2 linked regions of the Homo sapiens genome follow. The protein of the gene in region 1 interacts with the protein of each later gene in a pairwise test. Each region holds a gene or a part of one and is shown in the gene's direction. Other genes may lie near its edges. The genes, in order: SMS and MAPKAPK3.

Region 1 (3,500 bases):
TCCACAAATGATTGGTAGTTTCTCCCCGCAAGACGCAGCCCTAGTAAGAAAGCAAAAAGCTTAACTGTATACTTTTGGGGAAATAAAGAGCAGTGGTCTTTTAATTGGGTGACATCTCTCTCTCTCTCTCTTTTTTTTTTAATGCCCCGATACAATTCTTAAGCTTAAAATTATATTTTCCTTTGTAGCTTTGCCAATTTGAGAATTTACCCACATGGATTGGTGTTGCTGGACCTTCAGAGTTATGATGGTGATGCGCAAGGCAAAGAAGAGATCGACAGTGTCGGTTTTTCACTTTCATTTACTCAGTGTTTAAGGATCATAGTATCTGCTTAGCTTAGTGTTAAAATAATGTTCTCTTCATTGCTTACTTTCCAGTTAATTTTAAACTTTCCTCCCTCCACATAAGTGATTTTAGAATAGAAGTAGTTGTTTAGTTGTTTTTAGGAACCTGGGTGTCAGCGTTCCCTTTTAACTGCCTTAGTATGAGTAATCTTATTTTCCACTGGAGGGAATAGAAAACCTTTAACCAGGATTTTATAGCTGCAGTACCCTTTAGCCTTCCTCTTCCGTGTTACTTTGTTGCTAACTTACGCTAAGGTTAGGTCAGCAACATGAAGGGATAGTTGGTATGGGAGAGTGGAATTGGGCCAGGCGTCTACAGGCTGCTAGAGGGTAGGAGGAGGGACAGGTCAATCTTGCACAGCTCTGTCAACATGGCCTCAGTCGTTGGGTCTGTAATTTAGTTCTTCCATGCAGCTTATTCTACAAGCCCATTGATTTTTCTTTTAATTGTAGATTTTGAACAAAGTAGAGGAAAGAATGAAAGAATTGAGTCAGGACAGTACTGGGCGGGTGAAACGGTAAGTCCACTCTTGAATGTCCTTTTATATTTAATCGATTGAAACAATCATAGTTGGCTGGGCGCGGTAGCTCACACCTGTAATCCCAGCAATTTAGGAGGCCGAGGCAGGCGGATCACTTGAAGTCAGGAGTTTGAGACCAGCCTGGCCAATGTGGCAAAACACCGTCTCTACTAAAAATACAAAAATTAGCTGGACGTGGTAGTGCATGCCTGTAATTCCAGCTACTTGAAAGGCTGACGCATGCGAATGGCCTGAACCGAGGAGGCAGGAAGCAGAGGTTGCAGTGAGCTGAGATCATCGCACCGCTGCACTCCTGCCTGGGTGACACAATGAGACTGTCTCAAAAAAAAAAAAAAAAAAAAAAAATTCAGAATGGCAGTGTGGTCCCCAGTAGTGTCTGCTTAAGATGTGGAAAAGATCAAACTCAGCACCTCCTTCTGGCAACATGGTGAACTGAACTACTGGGCCCCTCACACCAAAACAAGACAGTGTATGAACATTCATGTGCATGGATGCACACACACAAATGCTAGGTAAAATGAAACTAAGGCAGAAAGGGGATATGGACCAACTCCAAGGAGTTGGAACTGCCTAAAGTGGAGACCCAGGTAGAGCTGCCACCTCATCAAAGGGAGCTAGAAAACTCCTGACTTCAGTTCGAGACCAGCCTGACCAACATGGGTGAAACCCCGTCTCTACTAAAAATAGAAAAAGTAGCCAGGCGTGGTGGTACGTGCTTGTAATCCCAGCTTCTCAGGAGGCTGAGGCAGGAGAATAGCTTGAACCCGGGAAGCGGAGGTTGCAGTGAGCTGAGATCGCACCACTGCGCTCCATCCTGGGCAACAGAGTGAAACTCGCCTCAAAACAAAACAAAACAAATACCTGACTTCAACCTTTCCAGGAAAGAGAAAAGGTCACTTTTTCTCCTTCAGGCTCTAGGCCCCAGAGTGAAGTTAAGCAATTTTAAGAGACTTCCGACAGGGTGGGGTGATAAGAAAATTTGCCTCAAGGCGTTCAAAGAAGAAAACTTTCCAAGATACTAAGAATTGATAGGCCACCAACTTTAAGCTGCCATAGGCAGGTTATTTTCAAGTGATCATGAGGAAAATGAAGCTCTCCCTATCCAGTGGGATGGGCACTAGCCCCACATGGCTATTTAAAGTTAATTAAAATACACAATTCAGTTCCTTAGTCACAATAGCTAGTGGTTAGTGTCTGCCATGTGGGACAGTACAACTACGGAACATTTTCATCATCCAAATTTCTATCGGACACTGCCGAAGTGTTTGCCAGTGGTGTCAGATTTTAAAAGAATGCAATTCGGACATCGTGGGAAGGAACTAGTGTCTGGTACATCATGGGAATTAAGAAGTGCTTTGGATACACAGCATGCAAATGCAGGACAATTTACTCTTGCCCTGCCTTGGTGGATCCTCATCAGGCCTTAAGGCATAGAAGGCCTGTCCCTTGCTCATAAAATTAACCTCAGTTGCAGAGACCAACACAGAGGGACTTCCTCATTGCTGAGCAACGGAAATACAGGTTTCTCCAGTTCATGGCACTTTCCAGAAGAAGGAATCCTTATTGGCAAGTGTTAGGATGTTTAAGTACTTAATTACTCAGCATGCTAAGTTTGATCAGCCCACAAGAAAGCTCCAGAGCAGATGTAAGATAACTAGGTAATTGTTTAACCTTCTGTAGTTAAAGAGGAAAGCAGGAAACTGAAAGTGAAAAGAAGACGCCACAGTATAGAACTATTTTTTTGAGATCTGTTAGAGCACTCAGGCTCTTTTGGAGCACCCAAGCTCAGTTTAGGGTCCCCAGCCATGTCTCTTACCCTTCACCTTCCTTTAAAAACACATCCACACCCATATACCCATACCACTTTTTGGACATTTCATCTTTTCCTGTTGGCAGGGTTTTCCTTATCTGCACCCATTTGGAATGAACAGGTTCCCCACTGTCAGAAAGGGTCTTAACTTTATGATAATGAATTGGTCCACATCAAAATGTGGTCTGATTTTTATCAGTTGCCTCTAGGAGTGAGTAAACAGCATACATTTATGGGCTTCAGCATTCATGAGAAGTCTGGTTCTTTTCCTTTTTTGGTATAGGAGTTTTCTAAGAGTGGAGTTAAGCTTTAGATCTTCAAAATACCTTGCTTATGCTTGTCACAGTTTTTATTATCTTTTCATGAAATAAGGTTGACGACAGCTAGAAATTGGGTATACCTTGTTGTAAACCCTTTGTTACTGGCCTCAAAAGGACAAGGATTGCTATCCTTTTTTTTTTTTTTTTTTTTAAATCTGGAGAATAAAGATCAGAGGTTAAATGTTAGAGATTAAATCATTAACAAATAACCCAGTAACATTATCTGAAATTATTCCCCTTTGATAAGTTAAGTCTGAATTTTCGACTAAGAAGCTATGGGATGTACTTGAATTTATTTTTGTTTTCTACTTTCAAGTGAAAAAACAAGAAAACAAGGTCACATAAATTAACTTTGATTTTAAAAGGTTCTTGCAATTTACACAGTATACCTAAGGCCTGGGCTATAATCTACCTGAATTGGTGTAGTCCAGTTTCATTTTTCAGCAGTGAAGGTTGAAACGAGTTTGGTAGGGTGCTCTACAG
Region 2 (4,020 bases), on another chromosome or scaffold:
CAGGCAAATGGTGCTGTTGTTTTCCCAGCTATGGAACTCAAGAATTCCTCCACCCACAAGTAAACCCTGTCCTTGGGTGGAAAGGGATATAGTGGTGATAGTGAGGGGCCTGGCCTGTTTTGAGGCCCCCACATTCCACCTGGTGATGCTAGAGGGGCACGGGCCCTTCTGCTCTCAAATTTTGCTGGGGCTCACTAGCTGGTGAAGTCAGTAGGGGTCTTGGCCTTCTGGCTGCTGGCTCTGGGGGCAAGAGAGAGAATTTGGCAAAGGAGGATGAGGGGAGAAGGGAAAGTGAAAACCAGTATATCAGAGCCTGAGGCCTGTGGTCACTCGCTAAAGGAAACATCATCTCAAATTCAATGCTTGTTGAGCTTCAGTGGGGACCCACACCTCAGGTGCATGGCCAGGAATCCCCTTCCTCAGGAAGAAGCCCAGTTTCCACCTCACAGGGGTGTGTGTATGTGTACGTCTGTGTGTGTGTGTGAATGTGTGTCTGTGTGTACCTATTGGGCACTAGCTGGAGCTGTGGAGCTGCCCAAGTGCCATCACAGACCCTCCAGTTCTGGTGGACCCCTGGGGAGCTCAGGGAACATAGGAGAGGAATGAGGCAAGGGTGGGGGCCCGTTGGGTTGTCAGAAATCCCCTCCTATCTTCTTCTTCTTTTTTTTTTTTTCTGAGGCAAAGTCTTATTTTCTTGCCCAGGCTGGAGTGCAATGATGCGATCTCGGCTCACTGCAACCTCCACTTCCCGGGTTCAAGCCATTCTCCTGCCTCAGCCTTCCAAGTAGCTGGGATTACAGGTGCGTACCACCACACCCAGCTAATTTTTTTGTATTTTTAGTAGAGATGGGGTTTCACCATGTTGGCCAGGTTGGTCTCAAACTCCTGACCTCAGGTGATCCTCCCGCCTCGGTCTCCCAAAATGTTAGGATTACAGGCGTAAGCCACCGTGCTTAGCCCCTTCCTATCTTCTTGTCTTCCCAGCTGTGACTGGGAACCATGACATCATTGCCCATTTCAGGTAGCCCCCAGTGGGCTCAGGCATGTGGATATGGAGGCCATGGGGACCCAGAGGCTGCTCCATGGGGGCAATGATGTGGGAGTGGTACTATGGTAGGTACTTTGCAAGGAACGCCTGTCTAGAAGTCTGCCTTGTTACCCACTTATCTCCCCCACCCTATATAGCCCAAGCCCTACAGCTTAACTTTGGGGAAACAGAGGCCCAGAGAGGAAAAGGGACTGGCCTAAGGTCATACTGAGAATAGGCATAGAACCTGGGCCTCCTGTGTCCTGGCCCTGTGCTCATTCTCATGCCTGGGAAGATGGAGCTCTTACTTTGGGACATCTTTTGTGAAGAATAGTGTGGAGTCATGTACCTATGTGAAGGAGGCCAACTTGCAGAAATGCCTTGTGGAATGGAGCAGTCATGATGGGCTCCCTGGAAGAGGAGGTAAAGCCTGGTTCAACAGAGAGGGTAGGTGAGGTACAGGCTGCCCTTGGGCAGCAGGGAGAAAGTTTGCCAGGTTGTCATGTCTCCCATTTGTTGAGCCTCACTGGGGCCTCCTCAATTTAATCTTTTTTTTTTTTTTTTTTTTTTTTTTTTTGAGATGGAGTTTCATTCTGTCATCTAGGCTGTAGTGCAGTGGCACGATCTCAGCTCACTGCAACCTCCGCCTCCTGGGTTCAAGTGATTCTTCTGCCTCAGCCTCCTGAGTAGCTGGGGTTACAGACGCACACCACCACACTAACTAATTTTTGTATTTTTAGTAGAGATGGGGTTTCACCATGTTTGTCAGGCTGGTCTCAAACTCCTGATCTCGTGATACACCTGCCTCAGCCTCCCAAAATGCTGGGATTACAGGCGTCAGCCACCACGCCTGGCCAATTTAATCTTATCTTGTCCTCATGATAGGTTGTGAGAGGTTTTCCCCCTCATCCTTACTCTATAGATTTATTAAATCTACAAATATTGATAGGCACAGTGGCTCATGCCTACAATCTCAGTGCTTCAGAAGCCAAGGCAGGAGGATCACTTGAGCCTAGGATTTCGAGACCAGCCTGGGCAACATGATAAAACCCCGTCTCTACCAAAAAAAAAAAAAAAAAAAAAAAAAACCAAAAAAAAAAAAAATTAGCCAGGTGTGGTGGCATGCACCTGTGGTCCCAGCTACTTGGGAGGCTGAGGTGGGAGAATCATTGAGCCCAGGAGATCAAGGCTGCAGTGAGCTGTGACTGTGTCACTGCACTCCAGCCTGGGTGACAGAGCAAGATTCTGTCTCAAAAAAAAAATCTACAACTATTACCTGAGTTAGTGCTCTGTGTCAGGCCCCGTATCCCAGTACTGGGACCTAGAGGTGGCCAGGCAGACTGGCCCTGCCCTGTGGGCCCACAGTCTGATGAGGGAGGCTGCTGGTGTTGGCCTGGCTGGGGGATCAGCCATGTGATTTGGGGCCAGTTACTTCCCCTCTCTGTGCCTCAATTTCTCATCCAAAAAGTGGTGATAATGAAGTCCTTTCCTCCTAATGTTTATAAAGTACTCCAAACAGAGCCAGGCACATTGAAAGTACAATATCTGTATGTGTGTTTTTGCTTAAAGAGTTATCAAAGGAACAAGCTAATTGTATGTTGTGAGCAAGTGCTGCACAGGAAGTGAAAAGGGCGATGACGTGAGAGCTTTCTGGGGAGCTAGGAATGTTTTCTGTCTTGATGGAAGTTTGGGTCCCAAGGGTGTGTGCAATCATCAAAACTCATTGAATTGGACCCTTGAGACCTGGGCATTTTACTATATGTCAATTATACCTCAATAAACAAAGCATATATTGAAAGAAAGAAAAACAAAGGATGAAGAGGGAGGGCTTCTGAGAGGAGATGACATTGAGGTGGACCACATTGAGGGGAGGCCTGGAGGAGAAGGCTCTGGCTATGGGGAAGGAAGATGAGAAAACTGAGGCTCTAGGAGGTTTTGGGCTCAGGGTCAACTCAAGGGGTCAGGAGAGACAGCTCAGGGGATTTCTTGGCAGCTGGACCTGGGCCCAGGCTGAGGGCTCTGGCTCCTGTGATGTACTCTGCAGAGAGGCCAGTGGGGCGTTTATTATATTTTCCGGGGACGGCCCTCTCCCCTGTCCCTATGCCTATTTTCAGGGCTTTGGCGTTTGTAGAGGGACTATTTTAATCCATGTGGGAAATGGGTTCCTAAATATGGACTCAGTGGGGCAGAAGCCTTGAGAGGCTCCAGCTCAGGGCAGCTCCACCTGCTCCTCTACCTCAGCAAAGCACAGGATGCAGGCCCAGGCTGGAAGGCTCTCCAGCCCCTCCTTGGCCATCTACCGCCCTCCTTCTTTCCCTCTGGCTCCTCCTATCTCCCTCCAGTCCTGGGCCCATCCTCCCATCCTTTGTTTGCTCGGAAGCCCAGTGTTTCCTGCCAGGCCCCAGCCAGGGACCCCCAAGTGAACTTGACCTGCCTCTGCCCTCAAGCTGCTCCCAGGGTGGTAGGAGGAACAGAAGCAAAACCAGTAAGAAAGGTGCTGGGAGGGGCCGGGCGTGGTGGCTCACACCTGTAATCCCAGCACTTTGGGTGGGTGGATCACGAGGTCAGGAGATCGAGACCATCTTGGCTAACACGGTGAAACCCCATCTCCACTAAAAATGCAAAAAATAGCTGGGCGTGGTGGCGGGCACCTGTAGTCCCAGCTACTCGGGAGGCTGAGGCAGAATGACGTGAACCCGGGAGGCGGAGCTTGCAGTGAGCCGAGATCGTGCCACTGCACTCCAGCCTGGGTGACAGAGCAAGACTCTGTCTCAAAAAAAAAAAAAAGAAAAGAAAAAGAAAAAAAGGTGCTGGGAGGACTTTCCAGAGAGAGAAAGAGAGAGAGAGAGAGAGAGAGAGAGAGAGATGGAGACAGAGAGAGAGAGAGATTGATCGATCTGAATTGAGCCCTGAAGTTTCCCCAAAAAGAGGGAGTTGACCCAACAGAGAGGATGAGGCAAGAATGCACATGACAGGGACCAGCACAGACCTAG

Evidence for each region.
Region 2: the proteins of SMS (region 1) and MAPKAPK3 interact in a two-hybrid assay, tested with the Homo sapiens proteins (one large-scale study listed by BioGRID and IntAct).

What each region holds. Positions count from the first base shown.
Region 1 is NC_000023.11:21,971,709-21,975,208, forward strand, and holds part of SMS (spermine synthase), read left to right. Parts: intron 1-188; coding exon 189-282; intron 283-798; coding exon 799-863; intron 864-3,500. UniProt on the Homo sapiens protein: Catalyzes the production of spermine from spermidine and decarboxylated S-adenosylmethionine (dcSAM).
Region 2 is NC_000003.12:50,633,832-50,637,851, forward strand, and holds part of MAPKAPK3 (MAP kinase-activated protein kinase 3), read left to right. Parts: intron 1-4,020. UniProt on the Homo sapiens protein: Stress-activated serine/threonine-protein kinase involved in cytokines production, endocytosis, cell migration, chromatin remodeling and transcriptional regulation.